Homo sapiens: one gene and its partner. The protein of the gene in region 2 purifies or fractionates together with the protein of the main gene of each other region. This does not show direct contact. Each region holds a gene or a part of one and is shown on either strand. Other genes may lie near its edges. The genes, in order: DUS1L and HJURP.

Region 1 (10,587 bases), on a different chromosome or scaffold from region 2:
AGAGGTGGGCCCGGACGTAGGACAGGGGGCAGGGGTGCTCCCGCACGATGTCCAGATACTCCTCGGCCAGCTCCCACACGGCAGGGCTCCGGCCCTCGAACAGGGCGGGGTTGTGCAGGTTGCCCTCTGTGGGAGGAGGAGCGGGGAAGGACACCTCGTGGGTTGCTCCAGGTGGACGGCACAGGAAAGCCTGGGACACTCAGGACACCCTTCTGTGCCACCTCACAAGGGACAAGGCCAGCTCAGGCCCATCAGAGCAGACTGGGATTGATGAACACCATCTGTGAACAGCACCATGGGGAGGGCAGTAGGCAGTGGGAGGCACCGACCTGGGCGGTGGTATCAGGCCGTGTGCATGGGGCCCTGGCTGCTGTCCTGGGCCCTGCCCACCTGCGCTCATGACGCCCTGCACACCCGTGTCCCGGAGGCAGCGCTCCACGTCCTGCAGGCACTGGATGTTCCCGTTAGCAAACACAGGGATGGCCACAGCCTTCCTGTTGGCAGAGAAATGCCTGTTTCCACCCGCCCGGAACAGCACCCAGGTGATGCTGCCCCCAGCCACGGCCCCCTGGGTGGTCACGGGCGTCAGGCGTGCCGAGCACCCTGAGGTGTGGAGCTGGGACCCCCAGCAAAGCCCCAAGGACTGAGGGCTGTGTCACCCACACCCACTCACCGCACAGCCTTGATATGCTCCCAGGACGCTGCACCCGACAGGGGCCCCTTCTGCTCCTTGGTGCGTCCGTGCACCGTCAGCAACTAGGACAGAGCAGTGGTCGCTTGACCCCTCCAAGCCCCTTCCGCCCCTCAGAGCCCCCTCCGCCCCTCCACGCCCCCTCTGCCCCTACTCCACCCCTCCGAGCCCCCTCTGCCCCTCCCAGCCCTGTGCCCCATGCCCGACTGCAGGGACCTTTCCCTCACCATATCAGCTCCTGAAGCAGGGCTGAGGAATGGCCATCTGGGGCCTACCCCAAGGCCTCTGCACTCTGTGGGAACCTCAGGCTGCATGTGCTGCCCAGGCCCATGCAAGAGCCAGGCCGGGAAGTGGCAGCATCCCCACTGCCCAAGGCCAAAGGTGTGGGAGGGACTGACTCCAGGCTAGTGGGGCACTGGGGGGGAAAGTGGGTCCTGGGCCTGGCAGCCCCTGTGCAAGCTCATCCCCGGGTCACCAAGGTTGCTGTCCACCTTCAGAAGGTGAGTGTCTTGAGGGGCACCCCCGGAGACAGCAGCCCATCCAGGCCCGCGCCAGGCCAGGCTCAGTGTGCGGGGAACACGGGCAGGGGAGCAGCTCTGCTGACAGCCTGGTGGCCCCTTCCTCACCCTCTAGGGAGACTGGATGCTGAGTATCCCCAAAGGAGGCCCTGCCGGCCTCTGTGACACTAGGAATATGTCAGAGATGCCGACATTACTCTCTCCACAGGGACAAAACCCTGGAGCCAGGAAAGCAGTTTCTGTTGTAGAGGCCTGGGCTTGGGGTGGTGGCACTCAGAGCCAGTGGGGACAGGCCAGTCAGGAGGGCCACTGCCCCCATGAGGCCGACGGTGCACGGTGTCTGGACACAGGAAGAGCCTCAGCTATGTCCTCTGCGCAAAGGCCCAGCTGAGGCCCATGACACCCCCGCGAGCCCAGGGCTCACCTGGCAGCCGGCCTTCTCCAGCATCTGGGCGTACCTCACGGTCTTGTCAATCTCCGGGAAGACACGGATTTTGCACGTGACAGGAACAGAGAGTTTCTCGTGGGCCAGCAAAACTGGGGAGAAGAGAGGCAGCTTCTGAGGGGGCCATGGTGTTCCCACTTTAGCGGCCAAGCCCCAGAGCCCAGGGCCCTGCAGACAGCGGAGCCCAGGCAGCTTTGCCGGGAGGCTGGGAGGCAGCCCGGGCCACCATCTGGGTGTCTCCCTCAGGTTGCTGGGCAGGCTCCCTCCGCCATACCCCCGGCCCTCCGAAGTTCAAACAAGCAGGGCCAAGGCCGGCTCTGTCTCCCAGGACATCTGGGGCTGGGCCCGAGCAAGGACTCTGCCCTGGCACCTACTGTCTGGTTTTAAGGGGTGGGTGGTGCAGGACAGGCAACTTCACAGCCACCTCCTTCCAGCAGAGAGGCTGCTGTGGGCAGGAAGCCCCAGGGTGATGCTGAGAACTCCTGCCAACGCCTGTCCTCTCCTGAGCCCCAACCAAGTGGACAGTGCCCATGTGTCCCTCTTGAGGGTCTCTGGGGGTCCTTCACCATCCACCCAGCCAACTCACTCATTCTTTGGAGCAGGTCCCACTCGTCCTGCAGAAAGGCGCCATAGTGACCTGCAAGGAGCAAGCATGGCCTGGCTGGCACCTGTGTTAAGGCTGGTGGGGCCGAAGCCTTGCACCCCCTCTGCACCCTTTCCTGCATCCACGCAGGCCAGGAGCTGCCCTGTCAGGCGGGACACAGGTCCCCAGAACCAGCAGTGTCTCCAGTTGGGGCAGTGGGACAGTCAGAGCAGTGGTTTGTCGGCATCAGACTCAGGGGCTCTATTTGCCCAGCTGCCTAAGCTCAGAAGGTGCTGAATGGAACCCCCACCCTGCACGGTCTGGAACCAAGTAACACCTCCTCAGGGGCCCGGTGAGGTAGCAGGCTCAGCCCCACACACAGCAGTGCAAGGGGGTAATGGGGACCCTGTATCAGCAATCATGTTTATGCAGAGGGAGCTCCCTGAGGGAAGAGAGAGCCAGTAGGGCTCGGCCCCTAGCCCCCAAGGCCTGAGGACAGCCACCCTCCAGAGGCGGAGCACAGAGGACAGCTGGCTCCAGCCTGAGCCACTGTCACGACAGAGGCAGGGCCTGCCGTCCTCCAAGCTCACCACACCTGGGGCTGCACTGAGCTGGCTCTGGCCCCTGCCCCAGGTGCCCCCATGCTCCACATGGAGCTCACCTCTCTTGGCTATCATCTGTGGGCAGCCCAAGTTCAGGTCAATGGCGTCACAGTAATCCTGAGCCAGGAGAGCCGCCTGAACAAACACCTCCGGGTCATTGGCACAGAACTGGAGAAGATGCAGGAGTCAGCCACGGGCCCAGCCAGGCCCTAGTCCCTTGCTGCCCAGCCCTACGAGAGGTCCAGTGTGACCCCATGAGGGTGTGGGCCCAGGTTCACTGCAGGAGGGTGCTCTGTCCTGCGGAGGCTTACAATATGACAAAGCCGGGAGGAGTCCCCAAGCCACCCGGATTTACAGATTTTCTTCTGAACTGTGGCAGAAGCCACAATCACTGACTTCTGAAGAGCAGAGCCATCTCCACTGGTTCTGAAGAGGGAGTGTGAGTGTGAGAGGCAGCAATCCAGAGGCCCCAGCAGGGCTGCAAACCTCACAGCACCCAGGCTGCCTGAGCCACTCCTAGAGAATGGGGTTGGATTCTGGCAGGTGCACCTGGCAGCCCTGGCTCCACCACAGGAATCACTGCTGTGGCTACGTGGACTCTACATGCCTGGTGCCACCTTCTCCCTCTCCTCCTGGAATTGAGCTGTCTCTGGAAAGGCTGAAAGTGATGTCCCGCCACAGAGAGAAGGGTTTTTCCCCAGGCATTCCAGGACCGGGAACCCAACCGCGGCCGCGGCCACAGCCCCTCCTGCGCACCTGCACGATGAGGGGCCGGTCCTCGGGGCACACCTCGCAGTACAGGTTCTCCTTCCGGTAGTTGGCGTCGCGGACAAAGACCTGGGCATGCAGCATGGGCGTGTAGCAGAGCTGTGCCCCGTGGCGCCGGCTCAGCAGCCTCCAGGCCAGCTCGCTCTGGTCCACCATGGGGGCCACGACGTGGCGGGCCCCTCGCAGGGTGCGGCTCCAGAACTCGAAGCCCTGCAGCTTTGGCATCGTCTCCAGGCTGGGGGAAAGGCGCAGACCCGGGGTTCAGCCAGGCCCAACGAGGGGCTTAAGACTCAACTCAGAGGCAGCGGTCACCCTTCTAAGGCCGCTCCAGTACCACCGTTGGGTCACACGCGGGGGCACTAAAGGCGGGGGTCGGTGCAGGCTGGAGAACGGCCACTCCAGTGCCGCCACCTCCTAGCGGACCTCGGGGGAGCCGCTGGACCCCTGGGACTTGACCCTCCCTGGGGAGCGGGACTCGATGTCGGCCTGGTAGGGGACTGGCGTGAAGGGGGAAGAAACCTTGACGCCAGCGTCCCCGCGGGCCTGGCCCTGAGCAGGCCGCCCGGCGGTGAAGTTAGGACCCCCGGCCCCTTCCCGGGAGAATCGGCTCCGCGCCGGGCCAGGGGAAGGGCAGAGCTTCCTTCTCCGCACCCGGCCAGGCGGCCCGGCTGGCCCGAAACGCCACAGGGGCGCCCCTCGCGAGACTCCTCCGGAGCCACGCGGCGGGCAGCGTTTGCTGTGTGAAGTGACAGGAGCCCACACGCCTCCGCGTCCTCACCGCGCGAGGGCCCCGCCGTGTCCGCCGCGCGCCTTTGGCTCCGAGGGCGCCGGGTGCCGGTGTCCCGGGCCCGCCCCTCTCCGGCCTCGCCGCCGCCCGGGGCCCCTGCAGCTCCCGGGGCGCCGCGAACGCCCGCACCGCGCCGGGGCCGCCGCCGGGCCGCAGCCGGGCCCAAGGCTCCGCGCCGCCACCGGAAGGTGCCCGGTCCTGCGCGGTCCGGGCGGCCCACGGTGCGGCGGGAAACGCGTTCCCCGGAAACCGCGCCCGGCTCCGAGGGGACCGGCGACGAGAGGTCGCGGCGCGGGGTCGGAGGTCAGAGGCTGAGGTCACCACCGTACCCGTCAGGCCGTGGCTAGAGAGGGGTCGGGGCTCGCCGGGACTCACCGACAGCTCGCTGGAAACGAGGCATGTGGAAATTGGGCCTCGCTGAGGCGCACATAAGGCCCGGGCCGCGGGTAGACCGTGGGCGCTGAGGCCCTGCGCTGCCCAGCCCCCAAGTTCGCATTGGGGGCTTCATCCCGTTATATCCTAAAGCGGCCCCAGAGCCCTGCCTCGAACCCACTCACCTGCCGCCTCTGAAAGCCACTCACTTTCCGCCGCTGCGTTGCGGAAAATCACCCTCCAGGGACCTTCCTTGCCCGCCCTGGGTTTCCGCAGCCGCCAGCCTTCGATCGACTTTCCTACCCGCCGTGGACCCTCCTTGGGTTATTTCGAGCTGTGGGGACCCACTGGGAACCCCAGAGTGGATGTGAAGGTTATTTTAAACTGAAGGCATTTGAGACCCAACAGATGTAAAAAGCAGCTTTGTCAGAGCTTTCCATATCTGAGAGCGAAGCCCGAAGTTGAACCAGGACATTCAGTACCTAAAACATGTGAAATCTCTTGGGCCCCCGGAATCACTAAGGAAAACTCAGGCTGGAAGCTGCTCAGGGCAAACCTGCCTCCCGCTCTATTCAGAGTCACCCTCTGCTCGCTGAGATAGATGGATATCTGACTGACTCCTTTGAAAAGGCTCATCAGAAGGCTGGGCGCGGTGGCGCACATTGAGACCAGGAGTTCGAGACCAGCCTGGCCAACACGGTGAAACCCTGTCTCTACTGAAAATACAAAATTAGCCAGGTGTGGTGGTGCGCCCCTGTAGTCCCAGCTACTCGGGAGGCTGAGGCAGGAGAATCGCTTGAACCTGGGAGGCGGAGGTTGCAGTGAGCCGAGATCAAGCCATTGTACTCCAGCCTGGCGACAGAGCAAGACTGATCAAAAAGGAAAAGAAAAAAAAAAAAGGCTAATCAGAAACTCAAAACAATGTAACCGTTTGTGTATCACCTATCTGTGACCAGGAAGCTCCCTCCCCGATGGCTTTTGCTTTAAATTGTCCCGCCTTTCCAGACTGAACCAATTTTTTTTTTTGAGACGGAGTCGCTTTCTGACCCAGGCTGGAGTGCGGTGGCGTGATCTCGGCTCACTGCAACCTCCATCTCCCAGGTTCAAGCGATTCTCCTCCCTCAGCTTCCCAAATAACTGGGATTACAGGCACCCACCAACACACCCAGCTAATTTTAGTATTTTTAGTAGAGATGGGGGTTTCACCATGTTGGCCAGGCTGGTCTCGAACTCCTGACATCAGGTGATCCGCTGGCCTCCCAAAGTGCTGGGATTACAGGCGTGAGCCACCGCAGCTAGCCGCTATGTTCATCTTACATATATTGATTGATGTCTCATGTCTCCCTAAAATGTATAAAACCAAGCTGTGCCCCAACCACCTCAGGCACATGTTGTCAGGACCTCCTGAGGCTGTGCCATGGGCATGTCCTCAACCTTGGCAAAATAAACCTTCTAAATTAACTGAGACCTGTCTCAGATTTTCTGCATTCACAGATAGAACAGCCTTGGTGGTCTTCAGAGGTGGCCAGATGTCCCTGGTGGACTGCAAGGTTGGGTGCACACTAAGGAAAGACAGGCGAGGGCCCCAGCTGTCCACCGCCCTGGCTGAACGTGAGGCTTTGTACAAGCAAAAAGTAAAAGCCAAGTCCAAATTGTAAAAACTACCTGAATTCCAAATGCAGCCACAACCCACACACAGCGCCATCAGCAGAGGCTGGAGGCCCTACTGGTTCAGAATATTTAAGCACAGTATCGAACCAGTAATTGTAAAAGGTAAAAGATTTTTTTTTTAAGACAGAGTCTCGCTCTGTCACCCAGGCTGGAGGGCGGTGGCACGATCTCTGCTCACTGCAAGCTCCACCTCCCAGGTTCAAGCGATTCTCCTGCCTCAGCCTCCCGAGTAGCTGGGACTACAGGTGCCCGCCACCACACCCGGCTAATTTTTTGTATTTTTAGTAGAGATGGGGTTTCACCATTAGCCAGGATGGTTTCGATCTCCTGACCTCATGATCTGCCCATCTCGACCTCCTAAAATGCTGGGATTACAGGCATGAGCCACCACGCCCAGCCCAGATCATATGAATCTTTTGCCTTTTAGCCGGGCGCGGCGGCTCATGCCTGTAATCTCAGCACTTTGGGAGGCCGAGACGGGCGGATCATGAGGTCAGGAGATCGGGACCATCCTGGCTAACATGGTGAAACCCCGTCTCCACTAAAAATACGAAAAAAATTAGCCGGGCATGGTGGCGGGCGCCTATAGTCCCAGCTACTCGGGAGGCTGAGGCAGGAGAATGGCATGAACCCAGGAGGCGGAGCTTGCAGTGAGCCGAGATGGCACCACTGCACTCCAGCCTGGGCGACAGAGCGAGACTCCGTCTCAACATAAATAAATAAATAATAAAAATATAACTTATGGTGTATAACTTGTAACTATAAAGAGGTTATAATATATAGAGACATATAATTATATGAAAAATGCAGCAAAAAGGAAGAGGGAAGGGAATTATATTGGAGCAAAGTTTCTGTGTTTTACTGGAATTAAGTATTAATCTGAAGAAGATTGTGATAAATTACGATGCTTGTTGAAATCCCCATAGTAATCATAAGAAAATAAATACATTATATAGGCCAGGCACGGTGGCTCACGCCTGTAATCCCAGCACTTTGGGAGGCCGAGACGGGCGGATCATGAGGTCAGGAGATCAAGACCATCTTGGCTAACATGATGAAACGCCGTCTCTACTAAAAATACAAAACAATTAGCCAGGCGTGGTGGCGGTCCCCTGTAGTCCCAGCTACTTGAGAGGCGGAGGCAGGAGAATGGCGGGAACCTGGGAGGCTGAGCTTGCAGTGAGCGGAGACTGCGCCACTGCACTCCAGCCTGGATGACAGAGCGAGACTCTGTCTCAAAAAAAAAAAAAAAAAAGAAAATACATTATATTATATATAAAAGAAATTAAAATGGTACAGTGGAAAATATCCATTTAACACAACAAAGGCAATAGCAGAACAGAGAAATAAAAAAATACATACGAAATACATAATTTTTGTAAAAATACAGAAATTAGCCAGGCATAGGGCTAATTTAGTAGAAACCCCATCTCTACTAAAAGTACAAAAATTAGCCGGATGTGGTGGCGTGAGCCTGTAACCCCAGCTACTGGGGAGGCTGAGGCAGGAGAATCGCTTGAACCCAGGAGGGGGAGGTTGCAGTGAGCTGAGATAGCACCACTACACTCCAGTCAGGGTGACAGAGCAAGACTCTGCCTCAAACAAAACAAAACAAAAACTAAACAAAGAAAAAAAACTAGTGGCATATGTAAATCTAACTGTATCAATAATACCATTAAACGGTAATGAACACTCCAAGTAAAAGGCCAAGATTTTCGGAGTGGGTTAAGAAATAAACAAGATCCAACTATATGCTCTTTACATTCAATATACCTTATTTTTTTATTTTATTTATCTTTTTGAGATGGAGTTTCCCTCTTGTTGCCCAGGCTGGAGTGCAATGGCGCAGTCTTGGCTCACTACAACCTCCAACTCCTGGGTTCAAGAGATCCTCCTGCCTCAGCCTCCCAAGTAGCTGGGATTACAGGCACCCACCACTATGTCTGGCTAATTTTTGTCTTTTTAGTAGAGATGGGGTTTCACCATGTTGGCCAGGCTGATGTCGAACTCCTGACCTCAGGTTTTCTGCCCGCCTTGGCCTCCCAAAGTGCTGGGATTACAGGTGTGAGCTACCTCACCTGGCCACAATCTACACACTTTAGACTCAAAGACACAAACCGGTTGAAAGTGAAAATACGAGAAAAGATATACCATATAAACGGCACCCAAAAGAGAACTGGAGGCTGGGCGCAGGGGCTCATGCCTGTAATCACAGCACTTTGGGAGGCTGAGGCTGGCGGATCATGAGGTCAGGAGATCGAGACCATCCTGGCTAACACGGTGAAACCCCGTCTCTACTAAAAATACAAAAAATTAGCTGGGCGTGGTGGTGGGCGCCTGTAGTCCCGGCTACTCGGGGAGGCTGAGGCAGGAGAATGGCGTGAACCCGGGAGGCGGAGCTTGTAGTGAAGTAAGCCAAGATCGTGCCACTGCACTCCAGCCTGGGCGACAGAGCGAGACTCCGTCTCAAAAAAAAAAGAGAACGGGAATGGTTATACTAATGTCAGACAAAATAGATATGAAGATAAAATATATCACTAGAGACACATACAGACTCTTTTTCTTTCTTTCTTTCTTTCTTTCTTTCTTTCTTTCTTTCTTTTTTTTTTTTTTGAGGCAGGGTCTCGCTCTGTCACCTAGGCTAGAGTGCAGTGATGTGAACATGGCTTCACTGTAGCATCAACTTCCTGCATTCAAGCAGTCCTCCTGCCTCAGCCTGTCAAGTAGCTGGGACCATAGATACACATCACCATGTCCAGCTAATTTTTTTGTTTTTTGTAGAAATGAGGGTCTCACTTTGTCACCCAGAGTGGTCTCAAACTCCTGGGCTCAAGCCATCCTCCTACCTTTACCTCCCAAAGTGCTGGGATTACAGGTGTAAGCCACTGCACCCAGCCCATACCGATATTTTATGATGATAAACATGTCCATTCATTAGTAAGATGTAACAATTAGAAACACATAAGCACCAAACAATAGAGCCCCCAAATTAATAATGAAAAGAGTGAAAAAAAAGAAGGGAGAAATAGACAATTTAACAATAATAGTTGAAGATTTCAGTACCTTACTCTCAATAATGAAATAGGACAACTAGACAAGAAACTGGCAAAGATGTAGGAGATTTGAGAAACACTATCAATCAATCTGACTTGACAGACATTTATGGAACACTTCACCCATGGCTACACCATATACTAGGCCATTAAAGAAGACACAATAAAACATTTTCCCTCCAGCCTGGGCAACAGAGTGAGACTTCATCTCAAAAAAAAATTAAAATTAAAATAATTGGAAAGCTATTCTCTAGCCACAGTGGAATTAAATTAGAAATCAGGCCACACACACTGGCTCATGCCTATAATCCCAGCAGTTTGGGAGACTGAGGTGGGAGGATTGCTTGAGTCCAGGAGTTTGAGATCAGCCTGGGCAATAGAGTGAGACCTCAGCTCTACAAAAAAAAAGTTAAAAATTAGTTGAGTGTGTTGGCATGTGCTTGAATCACAGCTACTTGGGAGGCTGAGATGGGAGGATGTTTTGAGCCCAGGAGGCAGGGGTTGCAGTGAGCTGAGATTGCACCACTGCACTCCAGCCTGGGCAACAGAATGAGACCATGTCTAAATAAATAAATAAGAAACAAACAAAAATAGAAATTTGAGGTATGCACAAATACTTGAAAATTAATAACACACTTCTGAGTAACCCATGGGTCAAAGAAGAAACCAAAAGGAAAATTTAAAAATATTTTGAAGTTAATGCAAATGAAAACACATTTCAAAATATGTGGGATGCAATAAAGCAGTTCCTAAAAGGAAAATTTTGGCTGGGTGCAGTGGCTCATGTCTGTAATCCCAGCACTTTGGGAGGCTGAGGCAGGTGAATCACCTGAGGTCAGGAATTTGAGACCAGCCTGGCCAACATGGTGAAACCCCGTCTCTACTAAAAATACAAAAATTAGCCGGGTGTGGTGGCGGGTGCCTGTAATCCCAGCTACTAGGGAGGCCGAGGCAGGAGAATCACTTGAACCCAGGAGATGGAGGCTGCAGTGAGCTGAGATCATGCCACTGCTTTCCAGACTGGGCGACAGAGCGAGACTCCATCTCGAAAAAACAAAGGAAAGTTTTAACTATCAACACCCATGTTAGAAAAGAAA
Region 2 (10,428 bases):
CTGCAGCACCTGGCGAGGTTCTCGGCTCTCAGCAGCGTGCACCCTCCTTACTGACTCACAGGCTATGGATTGAATTATGATTAAGTCCTAGCCCCTGGCATGATGGTATTGGAGATGGGGCTTTCTGGAGGTGATTAGGTTTAGATGAGGTCATGAGTGAGGGGCCCTTATGATGGGATTAGTGCCCTCCTAAGATACCAGAGACCTTGCTCTCTCCAGCATGTGGGGACACAGCAAGAAGACAGCTTTCTGCAAGCCAGGAAGAGTCCTCACCGGAGCCCAACCATGCTGGCTCCCTTGTCTTAAACTTCTAGTCTTCAAAAACTGTGAGAAAATAAACTTCTACTGTTTAAGCCACCTGGTCTCCAGCATTGTTATGGCAGCCTGAGCATGCAGGTGCGCACGCACACACACACATAACATGGTCCCAATGTAAGACGCAGGGGGGAAGAGATATGGGGCAGGGTATGGGGGTGATACCTGACATCAGGAGAGCAATCGCCTGGGGCGGCAGGCGGGAATGAAAAATGTGTAATTTAATCTCATTTTAAATCTTTCATAAAAAAAAAAAACCCAAACTCATATGGCCATATATTAACTATTTACTCCAGCATGAGTTTCACCAATGTATTCTGAATATGTGAAATATTTCATTACAAAAACGTCACCATGATATCCTGTCATCAACAGCTTCAGTAAGAATCATGAGGAGTCACAGGCGCTGTGGCTGCAGGAGCGTCTGGGACCACCAGGACTGTTTATTTTCCTTCAAGGGTCATTGCATGCAGGGCTCGAACTTACGTCTCACAAGCAAACAATATTCTCGAATGAAATGGGAAACAGGAGAGAGGATTCTCTGGACATATCTAAATTTAAAAAAGAACACACGGCTGGGAGCAGTGGCTCACGCCTATAATCCCAGCACTTTGGGAGGCCGAGGCAGATGGATCACGAGGCCAGGAGCTCGAGACCAGCCTGGTCAATATGGTGAAACCCCGTCTCTACTAAAACTACAAAAATTAGCCAGGCGTGGTGGCGCGCGCCTGTAATCCCAGCTACTCGGGAGGCTGAGGCAGAAGAATCGCTTGAACCCGGGAGGCGGAAGTTGCAGTGAGCCAAGATTGTGCCACCGCACTCCAGCCTGGGCGATAGAGAGAGACTGTCTCAAAAACAAACAAACAAACAAACAAACAAACAAATAACCCCCCCCCAAAAAAAACACACACATCAGAAAAACAGGCCTATCAAAGAGAACCCTAAAAATTCTAATTGAGCAACTTTATTCACATAATTTCTACACCAAGAACTCGAGGTTATCTCTGATGGAACCAATTTCACTAATATTTACTTTAAGGGCAGAGAAGTCAACCAAGTCCTCACAGTCTCAAGAATCAAAAACAAAACAAAAATACAAACAGAGAGCAAGTGGGAAGATAAATAACACTCCGAAATAACCTAGCTACACACTTTTAGTTTCCAATTTTTCTAGCATGAAATCACTTTTCTCTTCCATCCTGTAAGACGTGTTCTCTCCTCTAGGAAAAAAAAAAGACAAAGAAAATGATGTTAGCAAAATTCTAGAATTCCCAATGCCAGCCACTAAAAGGTTAACTGTTTTCTACTTATTCCATTGCATGTATAAAAATACTTATAGAAAGTGGCATTACGTTAAATAAGTAAGTTATGTTAAAGAAACAACAAAAATATAATGGCAACCCCCCGACCCTGCTCCCCACACTCCCCCAGGGAGCACAAGCTGGTGGGGAAGTCCACATCCCACACCCTGGCCCAGCTAGCGCTGCTGCACGAGTGAATTTAGGAGTTCTAAGACTTAAGCTACTTTTCCATATCTATTAAAAGGAGAGACAGCCTGCCTATTGGACAGAATCGATCTAATCAAGGGGTTCTGGTGGGGATGAAAGAAGATAAGACGTAAAAACGGTTCAGCATGGCCTGGCACACAGAGAGCACTCAGACGTTAGGCATGAAAACTCCATATGTAGTTGCAGCTCATGAAGAATTGGTCTCTTTCCTCAAGAAATCTATCATTTAAGCGGGAAAAGCAGAAAAACATAGGAAACCAGTTAAACATGTTTATATTGTGGTTTAAAATGAAACCTGGGGTGTTCATGATTTGACTTGCTATCAAATTCCAGGGTAGCTGGGAGGGCCCTGCGGGGCCACCAAGGGCTGAGTCCTCAGGATGGTCCCACAATAATGCAACCTCACACCATTCTCTACAAGGCCGAGGTCCCTCCTGTGTGGCTGGGCCAGAAGAAAGCCCTTTAGACTGAGCAGGTGAAAAAGCAAGGCAGGAGCCTCTGCACGGAGCACTGGGGCAGATGTCACTCATGGAAAGGGGTCTGCAGGCGACTGGCACGGTGCCAGATCATGGAACAAGGTGGGAAAAGGCACGAGACAAAATCCCAGGGGCAGGATGATGGTAAAAGGAAGAGCTGGGGCACTATCTGAGAAAAAGCAGTTAGGTTTAGACAAGCAGGACGAGCAGAGCAGAGGAGCTCTGATGTGTGGGAGACCAGGAGAAACCTCAGATCTCTCTCTGGGCCGGACAGTTGTTTTTGGTGAAATTCTCCCCTTTCAACTGAGAAGGAGACTCTTGAGAGGTCATCTGTTAAACAGAACGCATAAACTTTGCCTCAAAGCAGCCTCCATGAAGTGTCTGCCATGAAGATGTAGCTGAGATTCTTGAAGGCTTCACTAACTGTGGCTGAAAGTCACCCGGCTGGTGGTTTGGTCTGAAAAAGCCCCAAGTGGGCACAGGAGTGGGCATCAGGCACACAGTTGGAGACCAAGACCCGAGGGAAAGACTGCTGTTAGCCGTGCACTGCCAGGGGAGGAGCTCCGAGGGCCCTGCCCACACAGTGCCCCTGACCCTAGCTGGGGCCCTGCAGAGAAAAACCTTTCCCATCACCTGAACACTTACGTATGTCCATCCTCAACTGGGAAGACAGATGACAACCAAGGCTTGTTTCATCTGCTTCTGGTTAGCTCACACAGTATGACTTTATACACGAAAATAACTTTGAAAACCAAAACATCCAACAAAACCTGGGAGCTTCTAGAACTGAGCCAAGGAGCCTGAGCCGCTAACCCATGAGACTGGTCTGTGTCCAGACAGCTCCCCACTGCAGCACCCACCATGTGCAGCCCCTGGGAGGGTGGGGGTTACCTGCACGGAGCAGGCAGCTGAGCGGTGGGTGGAGTCTAGGGAGGATGTCCGAGGATGCAATAGCAAAGAACTGGGGAGTAGGGGGAGAATGCCAGTGAAAGTTCCCTGGAAGGGAAGGGCTGTCCTACGGCAGACCCTGGAGCAGGTGGCCCTGAGCAGTCCAAGGGCATTGGGAAGACAGAGTGACAGTGAGAAAGGCCCCAGGGGGCTCAAGCCACAGGAGGCCGCTGGCGGTCTGAGAGTGTGGTCTCTGCCATGCACAGGCGGGACTGCAGGCTTCGAAGGCAGGCACCACAGAAGGAACAAGGCATACCAGACCTTGGTTCTGAGCTGGACGCACGGCAGGAGCCAGTGGCTGAGAAGGGCTCGCAGGCCAGGCGGGTCCAGGTGGGAGAAACAGAAAATGGGACACTTATGGCAGGCAGGGTCCACCCAAATGACCTCAGAGAAGAGGCACATCGCCAGGCTAGGGCACAAGGGAAGAGGATACTGGAGACACGGCCTCACCTGCTGGAACCACAAACACACAAAACCCAAAGGAACCGGCCAAATCAAACCCACAGTCAAGTCCCGTCCACCTGTGGGTTAAGAAAGTCGCATCCTCCAGATCCTGACTGTGGACACACAGAGAAGCTGTGCTGGGGAATCCAACCTTTAATGCCAACAAAGGTACTCACTCCCACTGACCCACCCCACCCCACTGTCTCTAGAGAAAAGGGCACACGCAGACTAAAACTCTAGCTGACATGATTCGCACAAATTAAGCTGCAGAACAAGGTGCAGAAGTTTTAACACTGAGCACTGAGATATCTGCAGGGCACCCCTCGCACCTGTGAGAATACTGTGCTCGTGGCTCTCCCAGGCCACTCTTGCTCTTTCCCTACCAGGAATCCAGAAATAGGAAGTCATTCGCTTTAGATCACTTTCGCCTTACAACAGCTATTTTCTGAGTGTCAGATGAAGAGGTTAGAAATGAAGGTTTGACAAAGACGAATAAAGCGTAGTAAGTGAGGATTTGCAGGAAAAAAGCCTCTGAATGCATTCTAATGGAAAGTGTGAAACTTCTGCAAGAGCACTTTCTGCTTTACCTCGATGCATCTTACACAGGGACACATTCTTGATAGAGACGCTGACTTTACAGGAAGGAAAAGCATTTGGGAGAAAGCTCAGAAAATGATCACGTATGTAAGAATTCGGCTGAGATTCACTAAACGTGGCGCAAAGATTCCTACCATAAAAAGCCTCTGTCCAAAGAGCAGTCACTCACATAAACCACATTCAACCAACAGAAACACACCTACCTCTCTTCTGAGTTGGGCTGTGAAGAGCTGCCCTGGTCTCCCGGTCTGACGGTGTTGTCCACCCCATCTGAGGCACCCAGGGAATTGCCCTGGCGTCCGGAGCCCTGGGGTTCTGATAGCCTGGGTCTTTTTGCAGGGAACTGATGGTCCCTCGTGCCATCCCTCGTGATGGCACGAGCAACACATGTAGATGAAGGAGCCTCAATTGCAGTTGAGCCCAGTAGACTTTTTCTGCACCCCAGGGGTGATGATGGCAACTTCTGGAAACCCTGGAAGTGAGGGTCTGGATTTAATTTTCCTAAGAAGCCTTCTGTTTGATATCGAACTTCCATACTTGCTTTATCTGTAGACACTCCAATACATAAAGGCACTGTCATCTGCCCAGGAGATTTGAGGCAATACTTTTGATGAAGCTTGTCAAATTCTTCTTTAATTTCATCGTAACGATTCCTTCCGTGGCCTGGCACTTCTTTATCTGGGACTGAAAGAGTTTTGCTGGGTGACACTGACTTTCTAAATATTCCAGAACTATTTCCCTGAACGTGAAGGTCAGATGTCTGCTGCGGGCGAGTTGCGCTGTGTGTGGGGTTGGTCTTTGGAAGTGATGAAGATGAATCGCTCTTGGGCAGGCACCTACCTGCTTCCAGAGATCTTTTGCCTAGGTTTTCAAAAGCCTCACTTAAACTTTTTGCTTTTGCTTTGCTGGAAGGTAAACTCAGCCTGCGGGTTTCTAAGCCCTGAAGGCCACCAGGACTCGCAGGACCCCCTCTGTACATGTTCATGGCCCAGGAGTCCGGGAGGCACATCCGGCGAGGCTGGTTCCTGGGACTCAGGCAATATTCCCGATGAAGCTGATCAAATCGGATTTCAATCTCCCTCTGACGGTTCTCTCCATGGCCCTGTCGTATTGTTGGTCTGGAAACTATTTTTACAGGAGAAATTAACCATTTTAATGTCCTAAATCTATTTTCCTCATCAAGATTATATGTTGCACTGGAGTCGAAGTAAATCAAGGAAGAATACTTCGAGGGTGTCACTTTGCGCTCCTTCCAACTTGGATCTAACTTATGGATTTGGGGTCTGTTGACTTCAAGAAAAGCTTTTTCCAATTTTAAACCTGTCTTACGGCAAGAAACATCTAATACGTTCTTGCAATCTCTTAATGCCCCTGTCCCTTTCACAGGCTCAGAGCAGGGTATGAAGTTCTCCTTGGAGCTCCTCTGAGAACGTCTGGCTCCTTTGCAATATGTTTTGTTCATCCTGCTCTTATATCTGTGCCTCCTCCTGGAGTTCCAGTTTTGCATGATGAACGTTTTGGTGGAGATGATGCTTGATGGCTTTGTGCTCAACAGCCGGCTCATGGAGTGCAGCATCCCTGCGTACAGGTCACTGATGGTCACATTGCAAATGTCATCATCTTCAAAGGGCTGGCTGCTTAAGAAGCTGCTGCTACTGGTCTCTTGTAGGGAGAGGCTGTCATTTCTAGGTACTAAGGCCATGTCTGTGGAGGAAGGATGCAAAGGATCCCATTCTCTGGGAGATGAAGCTGGTTTCGCTGGGTCACCAGGACTCTTTCTGGAGATACGACTGCAGTATCCTGGGAGAAAAGATACACATAAAGTAAAGGTGTGTTACCATTCTAAACCATCCATGTGCACAGATGACAGAACTTAAGATTGGATCAGGACTATGTTTTTTTAAGCAATAGCAAAAACAAAAACACCACAAATGTGTAGGAGTAGACTCTTCTCAGAGATATTTTTTGGTATCAAAATTTGATTTCTACTCTCCATCGTACATTTCCCAAAGGTGTCTTCCTTTCCCTCTAGGCTGTTTAGAAGATGGATGCCTTTTCAAAAGCTAATTAGAAACTGAAAAATGACAACACTGTTTACCTACATGGATGGGAAGGGGTGTAAGACTTCTAAACAAACCTCTTCATATAGCTTTGACTTTTGCATCATGTAAATGTTTCCTATATTTAAAAAAAAAAAACCAACAGTGATGGGAAAAAACCATAAAATTGAACACAAACAAAAAAAAAATCTGTATGTTAAATTGATAAAGAGAAAAAAAAAGAGTCCAAATACTCTGAGTGTCTGCCTCTTAAAGAGATATTGTCTAAGGATAAAAAGAGCTGCTTGGAAATTTTCAAGCTTATTTAGTAGATGGTTGTGAAGAGTGGTAGCAGGTGCTGCAATGCTAGAGTTATTTTATGCTGTACAATTGACCAGATGAGCACGTGTTAACTCACTGCGGCTGGTGAGAACTGGGAGAGGCAGATATGGCATCAGGGCAGGGGTGAAGAAGTGCTCAAAAACGCATGTCGTTGCACTACACGACACAAAAGCCAGCCTGAAAGGGGCTCCCTGACAGCTAAATCTGGGGTTACTTGAGCGTCAAATTGCATACCGGCAATGGATTATAACATGTGAATCAAAGAACAAAAAGACTCCATGAATTCCTACTGATCCTAAAAAATAAAAATAAAATAAATCAAAGCATGAGAGGGAACTACAGGAAGCAAAAAAAAGAACCAGAGGGGAGATAGCTCTTTTGAGCAGAATAATGCCAACTGACGTGTGCCAAGGAACGGCAGAGACAGAAACAACCTGGGCGGGGACCTCCACCCAGGCGATCCGCATTGCTGGCTTCTAAGTCACTGGGTGAGAAGCTTTTAGAGAAAAGGTTCCTAGGAGATCTCAAAGAATCACACATAGATGACTCCAGGGAAAAAGGGCCTGTCGCAATGAGAAACATCGAAGTAAGGTCTTACCTTAACTCAATGACCAGCCTAAAAGTCACCAAGAATGGGACAGACTGACCAAATGTTCTGAGAGGACACGTCATCCCTGTAGTAATTTTGCCAAAAATGTTTAACGTGAACCTAACCACGAGGAAGCAATCAGGTCCAAATTCAGGGACATTCTGCAAAATTACTGGCCTGTGCTATTCAAGAAAGGCAATAATATGAAAGGTGACCATGAGGGAGAAAATGCCAAGGAGCCGCTCTTGATGGAGGGAGACTAAACGCAACGGTGGTACCAGCCTGAGTGGGTCCGGAAACGATCAGGCAAACCAGAAAGGCTGCAAAGGACGTCACTGGCACAATGGGTAGAACAGTACCGCATCAATGTTCAATTTCTGGCCTGTGTTAAGCGTACTGTAGTCATAAAGGAGAATTAGCCGATTTTTGGAGGTATGTGTGAGGCATTTAGGGATAAATGCATACACAAATGCAAATAAATACACACTGTGTGTGCACGTGTGTGGCAGGGGGTGATAACGCAGATATGACAACATGTTAATTGTGAAACAAGTGAAGGGTGTTCACTGTACTAGTCCTGTGCTTCTGGAGATGCAAAACTTTTCAAGCTAGTAAACTGGAATAAAGAGCAGACGTGGAGGAGAAAACAGCTCATTTTGAAACATCTTAATCTTCCAGTGAAATCCAAGTATATCTCTAACAAGTTATGTTGATGAAACACACCAGGAAATGATGGCGTGGCCAGTATGAGCAGCTCTGAGGGGCCACGCAGCTCCAACAAAAGTGAAGGAAACACGCACTGTTCATACAGTTTCTATGTCACACTCACCGGGGGCAGGCACGGCAGGTGAGGCCAGTGAAGGCAGCGGAGTCACACGTACATCCCTTCCAGCTCTGTTACCTGCACACTGAAATCAGAGCCAGTGGTTACAAGAAAAAAGTTGCCAGGTGTCAACTGGGTGCAAGGAGCTGGGTTCTCCCCTGACGATGCGGACTGTGCATCTTAGCACAGCCATGTCGACAAGCGTGTGAATGTGGTGACAGTGGCCAGCTAGGCTTCGGGCAGTGGGAAGAAAATATGTCCTACTAAGATCTGGACAGTTGATGTGGTCTCCAGGATAGCTTCCAGCCACAGTCACCACTCACCTGCCAGTAACTTCTTACCCCAGGGGCGCTGGTAGCTTTCTTTGTCTAGCATTATACTCAGACCACAAGAACACCTAGGGGCCAACCGGACGGTGGACAAAGAAGACCCAGTAGATCCGTTCGTTCCTAACCCTAATCTGTTCCCTGGATCAACACAGCAACCAAGAGGACACCACTTGCTGCCTTGGGTTAAAGGAAAAAGCATTTCAGGTACATCCACTAAGTCGGTGGTCCACAAATACAGGCTTTCCGCTGGTCAGCAGCACAGTAAGAAAACACATACACCCCTGTGAGATTGCTGCCTTTTTCTGGAGATGAATTCTTATTCTGCAATGTGTACTTCCTAAGTATTTGGTGTTGCAATGTCCTTTATTCTATGGCAGAGGGCACTGACCTTAAGAGAGGGGTTGGCAGGTGAGTGTGCCCACCTCTCATGCCATCACATCCCCCCCCTCCCAACATGACCTCTCAGCAGGCGGGACAGGTGCCAAGGGTCAGCCTCCTCACCTTGCAGCTGATTCTAGCCTGATCGCACCAGGGAATGTGGGGACTATTGCTTCCCTAACTATGCAGCTTCAAATCCTGGTCCAGAGGTCAGGGCTGCTCTTAAGAGTCCCGTGTGTGGCCCCAATAGATTTTTTTTTTTTTGAGATAGAGTCTTGCTCTATCACCCTGGCTGGAGCACAGTGGCACAATCTCAGCTCACTGCAACCTCCGCCTCCTGGGTTCAAGCGATTATCCTGCCTTAGCCTCCCAAGTAGCTGGGATTACAAGCACGCACCACCACACCCAGCTAATTTTTCTATTTTTAGTAGAGATGAGATTTCACCATGTTGGCCAGGCTGGTCTCAAACTCCTGACCTCAAGTGACCCACCTGCCTTGGCCTCTCAAAGTGCTGGGATTACAGACATGAGCCACTGTGCCTGGCTGCCCCACTAGATTTTTCTGTGAGTTGCCCCAGAACAGTGGGCAGAGCACCCCTGCCAGGGCTCCCACCTTCCTGATGGCGCTGCCCTGGGGGACCTGGAGTGTTTATTCAAGAAGAGCAAGTATGTCAGCATGTGAATAAAACAATTTGGAAATCATTACTTCAAATGCTCTTTATGGGTTCTGTAGAAAAAACAAAAAGCATAATAACACTGTACCTCAATGTATTTAGTTTATGATCTAATTATATAAAAACAAACAACTGGGAAACAGATTACCTCAAAATACTCTGCACCTTGTAGCAGTATATCCACTTGGGTCAAGTATTTCCTTCTTAATTCATTTTTCAAAGGGCTTTGAGGCACTGCAGGCTGATCAAAAAAGAGAAGTCAGAATTTTTAAGAGCTTCTGAGTATAGCTGACCTTTTGGCTTCTGGAACAAACTGGCAAGCTCATTAATGTACAAATCTTTACATGATCCTACTCAAAGTCACTTTCACCTCCATGATGTTATTCAAAGTCACTTTTTCACTTCCTGCTATGTTAATAATCCAAAAGAATGTAAAAAGACACACACACACAAAAAAACCATGTCTAGAGAAGTTTATGACAGCATTGCTAGACCAGGAAAAAAAAAATCTGAATATTCATAGGTGAGTTCAGGACTCAACTACTGGTAATAACTTCAAACTGGTAAGTTTATAAGAAATTCAGTGCTCCTGGCTGGGTGTGATGGGTCATGCCTGTAATCCCAGCACTTTAGGAGGCTGAGGCAGGTGGATCACTTGAGGCCAGGAGTTCGAGACCAGCCTGGCCAACATGGTGAAAGTCCATCTCTACTACAATACAAAAATTAGCTGGGCATGGTGGTGGGCGCCTGTAGTCCCAGCTACTTGGGAGGCTGAGGCAGGAGAATCGCTTGAACCCAGGAAGTAGAGGTTGCAGTGAGCTGAGATTGCCCCACCGCACTCCAGCCTGGGTGACAGAGTGAAACTCCATCTCAAAAGAACCAAAAACAAAAACAGAAATTCAGTGCTCCAGCTCAGGAGGCTCTCCTACCCCTCCCCTGCTAGACACTGGAAATAGAGGGCGTCAC

Evidence for each region.
Region 1: the proteins of HJURP (region 2) and DUS1L purify together in Homo sapiens (affinity purification with mass spectrometry; 2 studies listed by BioGRID and IntAct, with this or other methods). This does not show direct contact.

The regions. Positions count from the first base shown.
Region 1 is NC_000017.11:82,061,228-82,071,814, forward strand, and holds the start of DUS1L (tRNA-dihydrouridine(16/17) synthase [NAD(P)(+)]-like), read right to left. Parts: upstream 4,578-10,587; 5' UTR 4,386-4,577; intron 4,288-4,385; exon of another isoform or gene 4,127-4,287; intron 3,843-4,126; 5' UTR 3,833-3,842; coding exon 3,596-3,832; intron 3,008-3,595; coding exon 2,899-3,007; intron 2,292-2,898; coding exon 2,241-2,291; intron 1,747-2,240; coding exon 1,634-1,746; intron 757-1,633; coding exon 674-756; intron 495-673; coding exon 391-494; coding exon of another isoform or gene 330-390; intron 127-329; coding exon 1-126.
Region 2 is NC_000002.12:233,836,118-233,846,545, forward strand, and holds the end of HJURP (Holliday junction recognition protein), read right to left. Parts: intron 9,704-10,428; coding exon 9,611-9,703; intron 8,167-9,610; coding exon 8,088-8,166; intron 6,089-8,087; coding exon 4,492-6,088; intron 1,536-4,491; coding exon 1,460-1,535; 3' UTR 585-1,459; downstream 1-584. UniProt on the Homo sapiens protein: Centromeric protein that plays a central role in the incorporation and maintenance of histone H3-like variant CENPA at centromeres.